Regions from separate parts of the Homo sapiens genome. Here region 1 is linked to region 2. Evidence: fine-mapped expression QTL. A gene starts in region 2. The other region holds a variant in brackets. All regions are shown on one strand. Distances are from middle to middle. Region 1 has its middle 15 kb from the start of POLA1. Region 2 holds the start of PCYT1B (phosphate cytidylyltransferase 1B, choline).

Region 1 (8,386 bases), 32 kb after region 2:
CTCACTGCAACCTCCACCTCCCAAGTTCAAGTGATTTTCCTGCCTCAGCCTCCTGAGTAGCTGGGATTACAGGCGTGCACCACAATGCCCAGCTAATTTTTGTATTTTTAGTAGAGATGGAGCTTCACCATGTTGGCCAGGCTGGTCTAGAACTACTGACCTCAGGTTATCCACCTGCCTCACCTCCCAAAGTGCTGGGATTACAGGCGTGAGCCACCGAGCCTGGCTGTCCTCATCCTCATCCTCATTCTTTTTTTTTTTTTTTTTTTTTTTTTTTTTTGAGGCAGAGTTTCGATCTCGTTGCCCAGGCTGGAGTGCAATGGTGCGATCTCGGCTCACCACAACCTCTGCCTCCCAGGTTCAAGTGATTCTCCTGCCTCAGCCTCCCTAGTAGCTGAGATTACAGGCATGCGCCACCACACCTGGCTAATTTTGTGTTTTTAGTAGAGACAGGGTTTCACCATGTTGGTCAGGATGGTCTCAAACTCCCAAACTCAGATGATCCACCCTCCTTGGCCTCCCAAAGTGCTGGGATTACAGGCATGAGCCACCGCTCCCAGCCCTCATCCTTATTCTTATCTTGCATAGATGATTCCCCAAAAGAGACTGGGATTGGCCATCAAAGGTAAGCCACACTGTAGAGGTAGGTTCCAAGTAGTGAATTAAAACAGAAAAAAAAAAACAAAAAAACCATACCCAAGTCCTGGGCACATTATTTCCTCCAGATTTATTCACTGGATCCATTAAAATGATGTCCCAACTTGATGGAGCACGAACAGGTCAACTCAAATAGAAAGTTTCTCTGAAACTAACTGAAGCCTGGTTCAGCTGTCAGGAAAAATCACCCACCTCTATTTGCACTTGTTTGCTCTTGTCAGTAATGGAAAAATCACTCTTGTGTCATTAAGGCCCAATGGTTTACAAGAGAGGCATATTTTGAAATTGCTTCTTGCTGTCATACCTTAGAATAACAGTGCATTTGATTATATTTCCAAGCTTCTTGTTTCACATCCCAAAGAAGAATCACTACCAATCTACTCCCTCAGTTAATTCCTGCTTAGAGCAGGTAATTCTTTGTCATGAGCACAAGAAAGGTGAGAGGGTAGGTTTTGATTAATTATGACTATAAAACAAAGATAATGAGGACAGAGTCACCAATACCACTACATAGGCTATTCTCATCACAGACCTAGTTGGGTCAGTAAATCAAGCCGTTTACCCTTGGATTATGGAGGTGTCTGTTATCCAAACACTTATTGGTGGCTTTCTAGGGTCTTCTCTACTTTTGAGAATCTCATGAACTAAAATGGTATCAGGGATTCGTATTGAAAGTTCTGTAGCACTGTGCAGTGACTATAGTTAAGAGAAGTTTACTGCATCTTTACAAATAGCTAGAAGAAAAACTTGCATGTTACCAACACAAAGAAATGATAAATGTTTAAGTGATGGATTTGCTAATTACCCAATTTAATTATTACACATTGCACACATGTATTAAAATATCCCACTGTACCACACAAATACGTACAATTATTATGTGTCAATTATAAATAATAATAATAAAAGATCATTTGCAGCAACATGGATGGAACTGGAGGTCGTTATCTTAAGTGAAACAAGCCAGGCAAAAAAAGACAAATGTTGTACATTCTCACCTATATGTGGGAGCTGAAAAGTTTGATCACACAGAAGTGGAGAGTGGAAAGACAGATAACAGAGACTGGAAAGGGTGAGTGGTGGGAGAGGGAGGATGAAGAGAAGTGGGTTAAAGGGCACAAACATAGGGTTAGATTGAAGGAGTAAATTCAATGTTTAATAACAGAGTGGGGTGACTATAGTCAACAGAAGTGTATTGTACTCAGGTGATGGACACACCAAATACCCTGACTTGACCAATATGCATTATATACATGTAACAAAATTTCACATGTACCCCATAAATTTCTACAAATAAAAAAATTAATAATTTTAAAAGGGAAAAAAGAAAAAAAATGTGTTTTACTCTCTTCTACCACAAGGGGTGCTCCAGAGCTCTGAGAATCGCCCAGCTCCGTATAGTTGGAAATGGGTTGGCAGCAGCAGGTCTCAGCTACCTTGTATGGCACTTTGTGTGAATTAAAAAAAAAAAAAAAGGTACTCCTCTGAGCTGAAGCAGCCCTACGTGGTGAGCCCTATGTAATCTCCCAGTCTGCAGGGAGCCTTTGCAGCCACTGATCCTCAGAGAAAACGGAGTTGTTGAGGAAGCAAACTGTGTTAGCCCCATCACAGGAGATACACACCTGAATTTGGAGGACAAGTATCTTCTCTGGCCAGGGGGTATTCTATGCCAGGAGGGATGGTCAACTAGGCCTCAGCTCCAGAGCTGGTGAACCGTCCTCCTTTTCCACTAATTCCCCAGCAGCATTTTGTTTGCCTTTCTAGTACCTCATCTGTCTGTAGGGGGTGCCCTGAATCATGGACTTGGGCCCCATTTTAAGGGTCCTGCTTTGGCTCTCCTCCTCTGAGGAGTCCATGGGCCAAGGAGACAGGGTGCACATATGGAGACCCCCATCCTCCTTCTAGAACACTCTGGAGTTCTCTGCCCAAATTCCTGAGCCTGCTTCCAGGGCCTGTTTGGCCTCTTCCTCATGGCCACCTTCTCAGGAGTAATCTCACTGCAGAGTTGCACATCTCTAGGCACAAGGGGTGGTCAAGCAAGGGATTGTAGCAGGAGGATGTGAGCAGAACCTGGATATCTAGGCTGGTTCCACCCTGTGGTGGGGAACAGAGAAGGGGCTCTGCTCCCCACCACCTTTCCTGCAAAGAACTCCAAGCCACTTGACCTCCTAGGTCATTAACAAGATATGTTTGTCAAGTTAGGAAGATGGGATGTGTGTGTGTGTGTGTGTGTGTGTATGTGTGTGTGTGTGTGTGTGTGTGTATACACACATATATGTACAGTCTGTTAGCAAGATTTCAAACTTTTAAATATTTAGACCTATGATACATGGGCCTCCATTTATACTCTTGCTCTGACCCCACAAATGTTAGAGGCAAACCCAGCTAGGGATATTTGAAATCACTCTGGAAATGAATGACTTAGCATTTTCTGGTGATTTTAATTATACAGATAATTACAGGTAGATTGTCATTAAAAATCTGATGATCTCTGAATATATGAACAATATGATTTTCTGCATCAAAGTAGCTGAGGGCTAGATTCTGGACTAAGGTGAAATAATCTGCTCTACCCCTAGAGTACTTCTTGGTACAGAGTAGTTGCTTTAAAAATTATTGTCGGCCAGGCGTGGTGGCTCACACCTGTAATCCTAGCACTTTGGGAGGTCAAAATGGGCAGATCACCTGAGCTCAGGAGTTCAAGACCAGCCTGGCCAACATGGTGAAACCACATCTCTACTAAAAATACAAAAATTAGCCAGGCGTGGTGGCATGCACCTATAATCCCAGCTACTCAGGAGGCTGAGGCAGGAGAATCACTTGAACCCAGGAGGCGGAGATT[G/T]CAGTGAGCCGAGATCATGCCACTGTACTCCAGCCTGGACAACAGAGCAAGACTCTGTCTCAAAAAAAAGAATAAAATAAAAATAAAAATTATCGTTATGTGAATAAATGAATCCTGGAAGCATTTTGTAACTGCTTCTCATCATTTGCCGTGTGTTTGCTGATTAACTGGGCTGCAGAAACTCCTCTTTGACTGATGACGTTATCCAAGGCTGCTCTGGGGATGTTAGCCCTGAGATGAAATAAAGGAACAGATGAGGAGATGGTAGGCTCCATGGGCCTGGAGGAAAGTGACTACTGATGACTCCCTACCTTTTTGCTTTTTTGGATTTCCTAAAATTAACTATCAACAGTTCTGAAGAAGGAATGCAAAGTATGGATTTTGCATTTCCAAAGTAGGGACTAGAATCATAGTCCATCCACGTGATGCCAAGACATACACAAGTTCAAAAGCAGAATGTAGGTATTTTTGCATATCGCTGTTTCTGTTGGATTTATCAAACATCTACTGTGTGTCAAGCCTGAAGCCAGGTGAAAAATGAAGACAATTACGACAGTATCCACCTTCATGGAATTATAAATCAGTATATGAGTTCTATATTAGTCTGTTCTCACACTGCTGATAAAAACATACCTGAGACTGGGTAATTTGTAAAGAAAAAGAGGTTTAATGGACTCACGTGGAACGTGACTGGGGAGGCCTCACAATCATAGTGGAAGGAGAAAGGCACGTCTTACATGGCAGCAGACAAGAGAATGAGAGCCAAGCGAAAAGGGAAACGCCTTATAAAACCATCAGATCTCATGAGACTTATTCACTACCATGAGAACTGTATGGGGGAAACAGCCCCCATGATTCAATTACCTCCCACCAGGTCCCTCTCACAACACCTGGGAATTATAGGAGCTAAAATTCAAGATGAGATTTGGGTGGGAACACAGCCAAACCATATCAAGTTCTGTTAAATTGAATATCTCCCTGACTTAAATGATCAATTTCATGCCCCAACTCCAAAGCATCACTCTCTTTTCCCCCTTACCCTGCTTTACTTTGTTTTAGAATACCAATTACAAAGGAATATTAATACATTATGTTTATTGGTTTATTGTCTGTCTCTCCCAACAGAATGTAAGGGCAGGGACTTTGCCTCACTGCTGATATCCCCAGTGCCTAGAACAGTGCTTGGCACATATTAAGTGCTCAATAAACATTTTGTGAATGAACAAATGATTTTGGCATTGAAATTGCCCTATTTTCTTCTTCTTCAACATGGCTTTGAGTGGATAGGAGAATAATGCAAAGAAAAACAATCTGATTTCACAACAAGAGATACTCCTGAAAGAACTATTGGCAGATAAATAATGCTAAAGATAGAGATAGGATCTGGAGAACAACTAGTGTCAAAGAAAAATATATGCGTTGAAAAATTGTAGGGAACAACAACGTTCGGAATTTATTAGTTTTCTTTTTAGACACACAGTAGTTTTATTTGCAGTAACTTGGTGAAACAACCCAGTTCCAAGCAAATAAATGTCTTTAAAGTTTGTTGATCCATTAGGCCATTAACAAAACTTCTCTGAGCTGTTGGAGTGATAAGCCAAGCGACTCAGACATTGTTTTCTTTCCCCTACCTCACAACAATTATTTTAATGGATCACTGGCACTTTGCAGACATTTTTCTTACTAATAGAAAAACTCACTTTCTGCTTGGTGTGAAACTGAGTTAGAAGAAAACTGAGCATAATATATTTTGTAGTTGCTTTTACATCTTTCTCGTGACTTTTTGCCATTTGCCAGCAACCCTTGCATGATGCAAGATATCTGTGCTTGACCTGAGAGCCTAACCCATTGTATCTTCCCACCTTCCCCTTTCCTCTTCTCCATTCTCCCATCTACCAAGGCAAAAGAGAGTCTTTACCTTCAAATGTGAATCCTGAAGAAATTGTTGTGTTGGAGGGGCCGCAAGTTAAGGATTTCTAAGAACTTCACCTCCAGATGTTCATGACTGTGGACAATGCAACTGCATCAATTTGTGATTAGAAGAGAAACACACTTAGACATCCAGTGCCATCTATAAGAAACAGGCCCCCACCAGACACTAAATCTGCTGACATCTTGATCTCAAACTTCCTGGCCTCCCAAACTGTGAGCAATAAATTTCTGTTATTTATAAATTACCCAGTCTAAGGTACTTTGTTATAGCAGCCGGGACTGAGACATCCCTCAAATTCATCTATAGATTCAGTGTAATCCCAGTCAAAATTCCCGCAAGAGTTTTGGTAGAAATTGACTAACTGATCATAAAAATTATATGAAAATGCAGACTTAAATTGGCCAAAATAATTTCGAAAAGAAGAACAGTGTTGGAGAACTCAGACTCCCTGATTTTAAGACTTCTATAAGGCTTCAGTAGTTTAAACAATGTGATATTGCCATGAGTATAGACAGATAGGTAAATGGAACAGAATAGAAAATCCAGAAAATAGATCCACGTGTGTGGTAGATTGATTTGCAATAAAATGCCAAGGTACTTCCATGATAAAAACAATCGCCTTTTTAAAAAGTGCACCATTTATAGCAGCATTATTCATAAAAACCAAGAAGTAGAAACAACCCAAGTACCCATTGATGGATGAATGGATAAACAAAATGTGGTATATACATACGATGGAATATTATTCGGCCTTAAAAAGGAAAAGAAATTCTGACACATGCTGTAACATAGATGAACCTTGAGAATATTATGCTAAGTGAAATAAGCCAACAACAAAAATACAAACAGTTTGACTCCACTTATATGAAGTACCTGGAGTAGTAAAATTTACAGAGACAGAAAGTAGAGAGATGATTGCCAGGGGCTAGAGAGAGTGGGGAATGGGGAGTTGTTGTTTAACTGGTATAGAGTTTTGTAAGATAAAAAGCGTTCTGGGCCGGGCGCTGTGGCTCACGCCCGTAATCCCAACACTTTGGGAGGCCGAGCCGGGTGGATCACGAGGTCAGGCGATCCAGACCATCCTGGTAACACGGTGAAACCCCGTCTCTACTAAAAAAACAAAAAAATTAGCCGGGCATGGTGGTGGGCGCCTGTAGTCCCAGCTACTCGGGAGGCTGAGGCAGGAGAACGGCGTGAACCCGGGAGGCGGAGCTTGCAGGGAGCCCAGATCTCGCCACTGCACTCCAGCCTGGGCGACAGTGTGAGACTCCGTCTCAAAAAAAAAAGCGTTCTGGAAATTGGTCACACAACACTGTGAATATACTTAATGCAATTGAATTGTATCCTTAACAATAGTTACAATGATAAATTTTATGCCATATGTATTTTACCACAATAAAAATTAAAAAATAAAAAAGATGCCAGAACAATTGGATATCTAGAAGCAAAAAAAAAAAAAAAAAAAAAAGAAAAAAAAAGAACTGTATCTCACATTATATAGAAAAATGGAAATGAATCATAGACCTCAATGTAAAAGCCATAAAAAATCTAGTATAAAACAGGAGAAAATCTTTGGGTTAGGCAGAGATTTCTTAGATAGGACACAAAAACATGAACCACAAAAAATGGGTACATTGAATTACATCAAAAATAAAAACTTTTACTCTTCAAAGACACAGTTAAGAAAATAAAAAGCGTAAGCCACAGACTGGGAGAAAATATTTGCAAAACACTTATTTTTACAGGATTTTTATTTCAGATGTATAAAAGTTCACAATTTAATAATTAAACAAGTTACTCAGTTTTTTAAAGGGGCAAAATATTTGAACAAAGACTTCATCAAAAAAGGTATACAGCTTTCTGCCTTTTTCCAGCTTTTAAGATATTGAAGGGAGGACGTGATGGGTCTTCCAGTATGAAATTCTGGATTTCCCTGGGTCTTCTGTTAGGAGTGGAATCAACTGTGCTGACAACACAGGAGCTGAAAAATCTGTGTATTTTCTCAGTGAAGGGAATCAAGGGATGGCTGAACAGACTCTCCGCTGCTGGTGTGGGTGATGTGGTGATGGCTACAGTTAAGAAAGGCAAACCACAGCTTAGAAAGAAGGTACACCCAGCAGTGATAATTTTTTTTGTGTGTGTCATGGAATTTCACTTTTGTTGCCCAGGCTGGAGTGCAATGGTGCGATCTCAGCTCACTTGCCACCTCCGCCTCCTGGGTTCAAGCGATTCTCCTGCTTCAGGCTCCTGAGTAGCTGAGATCACAGGTGCCCACCACCACGACCAGCTAACTTTTGTACTTTAGTAGAGACGGGGTTTCACCATATTGGTTAGGCTGGCCTTGAACTCCAGACCTCAGGCGATCCACCCACCTCAGCCTCCCAAAGTGCTGGGATTACAGGCGTGAGCCACTGCGCCTGGTCTAGCAGTGGTAATTTGACAATGAAAGTCTTACCAGATAAAAGATGAAATGCTTCTTTATTTTGAAGATAATGTGGAAGTTATAGGAAATAATAAAGGTAAGATAAAAATTTCTGCTATCACAGGACAGATTGTGAAGGAGGGTGCAGAATTGTGCCCCAGTATTAGATACAGCTCTGGTAGCATTGCATGACTCTCAAGTGTATTTGTCAAAAAAAAAAATTAAAAATTATTTGCTCCCTCCCCTCCAATAAAAGAAGAAGAAGAAGAAGATATACAAGAGATGGTCAAGAGATTTCTGGTTCCAGCTCACACATGTAAAGAGTTTGGAAGTTGTCACTACCATCCTTATATCAAGAAAAAGATGGACAAACTGAATGAAAATTAATGACTTTTCTTAGACTCATAAGATAACTGAGATAGCAGGGCAAACTGCCATCCCCAAATCTAGAGAGACAGGCATATACAGAGAATCACAGTCCAGATCTGCCTACCTGGAGCAGAAGCTGCTGGGGCCATAAACTGGTACGGAC
Region 2 (8,386 bases):
GTTTATTTCTTCCATAAGGGTTTAGCATTAGGCAAATTGGGTTGGAGGGGTAGTGAGAGAACAAACCTAAAAGAATGGAAGAAACTAATTGATTGATTCCATGCTAAATACACCTGACTAGTATCAATTTGCAAGACATGGATGTTGCATTTGGATAGAGACCAGCAGGAAGATACCTAATAATAACCTTAGGCAGAATTCCAGTTGACCACAGTAAATACCCAAGGAAGCTCACGTTTGTTTATTTTCGCCAATATTGCGCATTAAGAGTGTTTCACTTTTAAAATGTATGCTGTTCTGGGTGGCTAAGTAGATGGCAATATTAGCAAAGGAAGCCATTGATGTCTCTGGAAATCTGGTCATCTTTTTGAATACTAGCAGATGAGCATGCTACCTCCAAACTGACATAATGCACCTTCTGCAAGACAGCAGTCTCTTGGCACTGCTCCACTTTGAAGTAAAACCCGAAATGAACTCCTCCTGCTAATGTGGCATGTTGAACCAACCCTTTTTTATTTCCAAGGCCTTCTCAGTTGATCCATAGTATATCCATCTTCATGGAAGTGACTATTGCAGTCTAGAATTACAATTCCTTCTGACAACAGAATGCACCCCTAGAAGAACTTGTCCAAGGTCATTAACCAAATTCTCAAGCAGACAACTTTCAGGGTGGCTGGGCCTTGTTAGAAAGGGCTTCTGGGACACCTGCTGAGCCCAGAGGATCTTTCTAGGCATAATCTGAGGGCTGGGAAGATATGAGGACACAGTCCTTGCTCAGAGGAGTCCTTGTATCTCAGGAGTTAGATTTCCAAGAAGGGCTATTACATCATATCACCCAAGGCCACTCAGTTTCTCATCTTGACAGTCAAGCTGATGAGTCACCTTGCATCATGTTTAATCAGGAAAATAGTAAAGAACTGAAAACAAGTCAAGAATCAAGAGTAAACATTGTAACAATGTAAAGAGTTCTCAGAAGCATCTCAAATCAGAGCACCATGGTAAAATGGTAAGAGTAGTAAGATTATATTCCTAAAATATAGGCTCTATCATAAAACCTAGGTAATGCTTTTGTTATTTCTTTTCTAATTTCTTTATCAGAGTTACTGCATTCTATTTAATCGTCTCCTTTCTTATATTTTCCTCTAATGAAGAATAAGGCAGGTAGAGAAACTACAAGTTTTCCTGGCAGAAGAACTTCCCCTTGAAATATAATTCAATCATATCTGCAATATTATTATCAATTTGTTACTTACAGGGATCTAAAATATAGACTGCTTTAAAGTCTATTTATTCACTCACGTATGCCAGCTCCCCACTTCATTTCAGCAACTAGGAGAAGGAGCCTGCCCTCTGAAGGAGAATCCAAGTGTGGAGCTTCAATCCTAAACAGGCCCCCTGCAAATATTTCATACACTTTCCATAGTTAGTTAAGCAACTCAGTAGCCACACTCTGTTGATGGCTGTGGTGTCAGTGACCCACATACAATTTGGAGCTATATGCCTGGGTGCTGGGAGAAATGCAGAATTTATACAATTTGAAATATGAAGACACTAGCAAAGCTACAAGATCAACAGAAACTACTAAAAACCAGAGAAAGAAATGCTAATTTCATGTTTTCACTTGCTGCTCACTCTCTTCATCAACAAACTTTTTTATTAAGTAGTTAGCATGTGCCTTAGTTATTAAAGTAAGATCATTAGCAAAGGAAAGTTAGGCTATAAAGTATAAATCTAAATTTAGAATATAACCCTACAGTGATCAAAGTTAGCTAATAAGAGAGAAGGCAATTTGAAAATTTTAGTAGTGTTTTATAAATTGGTTGCAAGCCCCTGTTTAAACAGAGTCAAATTTCAGTAGCCCATGACAATGATGAACAACGTGGAAAATTTTGTATCATAAGTAAATCAAAGCAGGTGCTTCAACAGTTCAACTTATGTACATCTGTATCATACCTATGCATGTGCATGATACACACACACACACACACACACACACACACACACACACACGAAACCAGAACTGCCAAAAAGATGGGAAGGGAATGTATCTCACTTATGAGTATGTTATAGAAGAAAGATCTTCCACTTTTCCGGTGTAGAGCTCTGGGTTCAAATCCCAGCTCTGCCCCCTTCAAAGCAGTGTGACCCTTGGGCAAGTCACTTACCCTCTCTGAACCTCAGTTTCCTTATTTCTACAATGGGTGGGAGGTGAGGGTGTAGAGCACATTGCCAGCTTTGCGTGGTTCTTGTGAGTTACCACCTGGAATAAGCTGTCACGAGTGAAAGTGGAAAGTAACTTGGCCAGGTGCAGTGGGTCACACCTGTAATCCCAATACTTTGGAGGCCAAGGTGGGCGGATCACCTGAGGGCAGGAGTTCGAGACCAGCCTGGCCAACATGGCAAAACCCCGTCTCTACCAAAAATACAAAAAAATATTAGCCAGGCATGGTGCTGCCCACCTGTAATCCCAGCTACTCAGGAGGCTGAGGCAGGAGAATCGCTTGAACCTGGGAGGTGGAGGTTGTGGTGAGCCAAGATCAGGCCACTGCACTCTAGCCTGGAGGACATAGTGAGACTCCATCTTAAAAAAACAAGAAAGTAACTTGAACTTTCTTCTTTCCCTTAATTTTCTCTGCCCATCTCCCTCAGGCAGAAGCAATCAAGAAGCAGAATAGCTAAGAGGTAAAAATGGAAGGAAAAATAGTAGGCAAAAGAGACTGAAATGATGCACAAACTGGAGCTGGATGCCGCCTTTCTCTCCTCTGCCCTTTACCTCTGTCAGGAAGGTATGTGATGCAAATTTGAAGATTGTGGTTACTTTAAAAAATATATTTTTGGGTAAGCATGGGCACAAATATATATACATATGTGTGTATATATGTATATATGTGTGTATATACATATATATATATACACACATATATATATTGGTCCAGTGCTGTGGCACAAGCCTGTAATCCCAGCTACTTGGGAGGCTGAGGCAGGAGGATCACTTGAGTCCAGGAGTTCAAGTTTGAGGCCAGCCTGGAAAACAGAGTGAGTCTCTCTCTCTATTTATGTGTATATATGTATATGTGCATATGATAATCTTGTAATATGCTTTTAGTGGTCATTTTCCTTTATGCTAAACCATAAGTTGTTTAGTGACTCAAAGGAATCCCTTAGTAACAAACTTATTGGGATGGTTTGTATCTCATGAGAACATAGACACTGCACTGTGTATGTCATTCAGTAAGTGGCTAAAGTGCTAGGGCACAGTTACTATTAAACTGCCCTAAGAGAAAACATTTTTAAAAATAGAAGCATAGGGGAAAAAAGCCCACAGGGCTCTAATATAACTTCCTCTGTATTTGTGCTTTTTAGGAAGTTGTTCTAAGCCTCCTTTGAACCCTTATTAACTCTTATTAAGAAATAACAGTTTTATGATGGGTTGGCCTTCTCATCTGCGAGCCCTAATTTTGCAGGTTCACAGAAAATGCTACATCACAAAATCCTTTTTTAAAAAACTCTTCCCAGGGTCAAACTCCACAGCCAATCAAAATATTCCACCTTTTAACTTGAGGGAAATCGCTAAAGGAAAGGATAGCTTTAACTAGTGTGTCTTTTGGATTGGGGGACTCAAAGAGAGGTCTCCCCAAGTTCCACAAGACTTCGGACCACAGAAAACCCACCACCCATGCGTGTTTTTGATTCCTTGAGGACACATGCTGAGGTGGTTGGGAACGAAGTTTCACATCTACCTAAAAGATCATGACCAGGGATAGAGAGACGACCAAATTTGGGAGAGCAGTTACGGTGCAGTTACGGAGGCGGAAGGACGCTCTCAGTACCCCGTTTCCACACTTTCATTCTTAAAGGCATGCAACCCCTTTCTAAATAAATGTAGCTCCCCAGGTTTCCACTACCTGAAGAGAAACCCTCACAGCACACTCTGGAAATGTTTTACAATTCGTTTTAAATGCGTATTATTTCTAACTAAATCATTGAGGGACTCCTATGTATTTATTTATTTATTTATTTTGAACATTTTCAAACGGATGGGGAAGTTTTGCTTCCATGTTTCCATTTTTTTCCCCCCAAATTGGCATTAGGCACCAAAATCAGTTGAGGAACGAAGCATTCCTTAGCTAGAATTTAAAACTTAACAAGGGACTCTTCCCGAGCTTGGTAAAGAGAATACCATTTTAAAATTGCACTGTAGGATTTTTTTACCTTCAGACAAGAACACACCTAAAAGGAAAAAGGCCCTCCCCTCCTCCCGAAGCACAAAAACACAGCATATCCCAAGCAGCCCGTTTCCTACCCAGCCAATACAATAACGCTTTGTAAACTGAGAGCAGCGCCCGGTATAGAAGCTAAGTATAAACAGCTGAGAAGGATTAGGCGGTAGCGCTCTTCTCATTTACATGAAAATCCTCTAAGCATCGTTTTCCTCGCTGGCTGCGGGCGCATAAGGAACTCTTTTATGCCATAGCCACGCATACATTTCCATCCTTTGTCTTTACTTACCAGTCGAGGCTGTGGGCATGTGTGCTCTATTTCCTCCATGGTTTCTGAGGGAGGCTCATTGGAAAGGGATTTTGGGATACCTGTTTCTGACTCAGCATCAGTGGTAACTACTGGCATGGCCAGTGAATGCTCCCTCTAGCTCTACACCCTCAGAGAGTCTCCTCCCAGGCAGAGAATGTTTTCTTTGTCACGTATTTTTCTCCCCTCTACCCTCCACCCATCCCCCCGCTTCTTCTCCCCTTCTTTCTGTCTTCCCTAGGGGAAGTAAAGAGGTTACCCCCCGCCCCTCTCTCTCTCTCTCTCTCCCAGAAGCCAAGAGGCAAGGCCTCAGTTTATCACTATAACAACCAGACGACACTGAAGCGGCTGGTGCGGGATACAGTATCTCATTTGCATAGAGCGCGCTGGTTGGCTACTGTCATCATAGTACCACTCCGCCGGGAAGCGGCCGGGCCCCATTGGCTAGCCCTCCGTACCCACGGGCCCGAACTTGCTGCTTTTGTTTCTTCTGTTTAATTCAGTTGCAAAGGTCTCCGTCCTCTCTGGGCACGGGACCCGGGCTGCGCCACCCAGATAACATAAAACCGCTTCCTGAGGGGCCTAGGACGCCTTGAGAAACAACATAGCAGACCTCCACTAATAAAGGACCATGTCCCTGGGATGAGCTAGTGCATGATGTGCTGTAGTCAGGATATTTGCCAAATAGGAGTCACCCTGAAGACAAAGCCACTTTTGAGCCCAAATTCATTGTGCTAATTGCCAGTGGAGGGCCCCTCCGGGCATTCACTATGGGCACCTGAGTGTTCGACCCCTGGACTTCATGCAACGTGAACCCTGGCAGATCCCCTCGTGGCCTGGTGTAGCCCTGGAGCCCTCCCCTGGGGCTGCCCTAGGGGGAACTTTGAAGGAGGTAGATTGTCTTTAACAGCCTGCCTCCTACTCCTGGCTGCCCTTTCGCAGTTGCTTCCTCTGTCAGCCACTCTTCCCCTTCCCCAGCTATTCAAAGTTTCCTCAAGAAGTCTTGCTGTTGTGTGCCTTTCAATACACTGTTCCATGCACTGCTCTATTTTCTCTTGGTTCCTACTTTACCAGTCGTGGGTCCCATTTCCGAAGTACCCTGCTCTCAGCCAAATGCTCATGGCAATCAGAGATGGAATGTTAACGATCAGGTGCTTTAATGTCTACATTATCTAGGGACATTCACATTTTAAGAGGAGCATTCTGAAGACACACATCCAAAGAACTTACCAAGGTATTCATTGTGAATTGTCACTTTTAATATTAATAAAAAATCATGATGATCCCTGGCATTTATTAAGCACAAGCACGGTGCTAAGTACTTTACCTAGTTCTTGTTTAATCTTTGTGAGAACCCAAAGAGGTAGATCCTATTGTTATCCTCATTTTACAGGTATTCACATTCACAAAATTCTAAAATAATGCAGCTGGGATTTGAAGGAATTTTTTTTTTTTTTTTTTTTTTTTTTGCGAAGGGCGAGGTGGTGGGGGCGGGCGCGTAGGGACCAGGGATGCAGCAGGTGTAGTAAGAAAAGGATCTAGGCAGGAGTCCTCTTAGGACAAGTCCCTGGGCTTCTACATCTTTCATTTTTATCTACAGTAGTGGTTTTCATTCAAGTGTGGTCTGGGACCAGCAGCACCAACATCAGCATCACCAGGGAACTTGTTAGAAATGCGAATTATTGGCCCCCTGCCAGACCCCGGACCTGATTCAGTAAGTCTGGGGTGGGGTCAGAATTTGCTTTTCTAGAGAGTTTCTGGGTGTTGTTAATGCTGCAGGTCTGGGAACTATACTTTGAGAATCAGTAGCCCAAAGGATGGGATAAAAATACCGGGCTTGCCTCCATCACAGAAAGGAGATCAAATGAGATATCATGTCATTGCACTTTTTGAATTAGAACGTGCTATGCTAATATAAGGGGACATTATTTTTATTACTCCTCAATAAGCAAAGAGGGCTAGTCCTAAAAGAAGAAGAAAATGGATTCTGTAGCAGAGAATTACAGTTTGACAGTTTTAGATGCTGGCCCTTTAAGTCAGAATAACATCACTTAAGAGTATTATGACCTATACAGGACAGAACTCCAGTGTTGTGAGAATTCCAGTGATGCTTCCTACCCTATTTGCCCTCCTGGAAGCACAAAACACTTCCAGCAGCAGGTTTAACTCTACCAGCTCATCACCTGGAAGAGCCAAGCCCTGTGTTACATTTAGGAGCCCTTTTCCTACGTGTACTGGGTGACGTGCAAATGACATGGTTATTCTAATCTCAATATATGTATTTTTGCCTTAGAGCAGTGGTTCTCAAAGTGTACTTCTCCAAGAAGTGCAGCAGCAGCCCTGGTCACTTGTCAGAAATTCTGGATCCCCACCCCAGACCTACTGAATCAGAAATTCTGGCTTCCCACTCCAGACCTACTGAATCAAAACCTCCTGGTTTGGGAGGCATTCTGACCCACGCTAAAGTTTACAAACCACTACCTTAGAGTCACTGTTCACATTGGAAAGCACCTAAACCCCACTGTATTCTTGGCCACTGAGCCACCCCTTGGTTCCTAATTGGTCACCTAATTCTCTCTCCAGAATGAGAGGTTCACCTGTTCACCTGCTCATTTTAAAGAGTTCTGATGTCTAGCTGAGTCCTTGTGAACTCTTGTCCAAGAGCCTAGGCCATTCCTTTAGACTCCCAATATCTTCTGTCTCCCTTCCTCACCTTCTTCTCCTCCTAATCCTCCCCTGTCCCATTGAACCAAGATACTGCCTTTGCCTAGGATATCTTCATTGTATTACCCACATCAAATCCTTAGCTTTCAGTGCTACTTTGTGCTAAGTCCGTCACACCTGACACTTACTCATCCCAAGTCCTTGAACTTTGAAATTTAGACTTCTGTCTAACTGCCCTGAGGGTCAGCTCTATAACTAATTCCATTCCCACTAATTCTGCTCCAGCCTAGTCCTGGCTTCTTCCTGCTCCTCTCCCCACAGTCCTGTGATTGAATCTCAGCATGTCTTGCAGTCTTAATGGCAGAAATAGGCTCTTTCAGGCACCACTCTGAGAGGAGTCCTTAACAGATCCACCCACTTTGGAGACCAGTCCTGGCAGCTGCTACAACCTGACTCAGAAACTTCTTGATAATACTTGAGTGAGTTATTTTAACTTGGGGGCATTGTAATGCTATCAAGACAATTAGCTAAGAATGATCAGTTAATTCCACACTACAGAGCTAAATATTCCATAAGGGTTATGAAGGGGATGACTATGAAGGGATAGCAGGAGAGAGTTTATTGGGGTAATGGAATTATTATGTAGCTTTTTTTTTTTTTTTTTTTTTCAGACAGGATCTTACTCTGTTGCCAGGCTGGAATGCAGTGGTGCAATCTCAGCTCACTGCAACCTCTGTCTCCCAGGCTCAAGCGATCCTCCCACCTGAGCCTCCCAAGTATCTGGGACCACAGGTGTATGCCACCACTCCTGTCTAATCTTTCTATATTTTTGGTAGAGACAGGGTTTCACTGTGTTGCCCAGGCTGGTCTGGAACTTCTGGCCTCAAGTGATTCACCTTCCTCGGCCTCCCAAAGTGCTAGGATTATAGGCGTGAGCCACTGTGGCCGTCCAAGAATCATTATGTATCTTGATTATGGTAATGATTTCAAAAAATCCATGCATGTGTTAACTTCATTAGAAATTCCATAGAGGATATTTGTCAGTATATGCTAACAGCCTTTAGAATATTCATACCCTTTGACCTAGGGATTCCACTTGGTAATTTATCCCAAAAGAAATAGAGAAGCACACAAATAATTATGTACAAAGATGCTTAATGCAGAATTATTTATAAAAGGCAAAAAAGATACAACT

Evidence for each region.
Region 1: its variant is fine-mapped to the expression of PCYT1B in lung (TOPMed, PIP 0.94).

The regions. Positions count from the first base shown.
Region 1 is chrX:24,674,589-24,682,974 of GRCh38, forward strand. It overlaps the pseudogene LOC100288233. Among named protein-coding and RNA genes, the nearest start is that of POLA1, 15 kb to the right of the region's middle. The variant G/T (reference allele first, on the strand shown) is at 3,500.
Region 2 is chrX:24,642,480-24,650,865 of GRCh38, forward strand. It overlaps PCYT1B (phosphate cytidylyltransferase 1B, choline), which reads right to left and starts at 4,868. Exons shown (of 8, transcript NM_004845.5): 1 at 4,510-4,868. The coding sequence starts at 4,626. It overlaps PCYT1B-AS1 (PCYT1B antisense RNA 1), which reads left to right and starts at 7,594. Exons shown (of 2, transcript NR_046638.1): 1 at 7,594-7,670. RefSeq lists an enhancer at 5,064-5,113.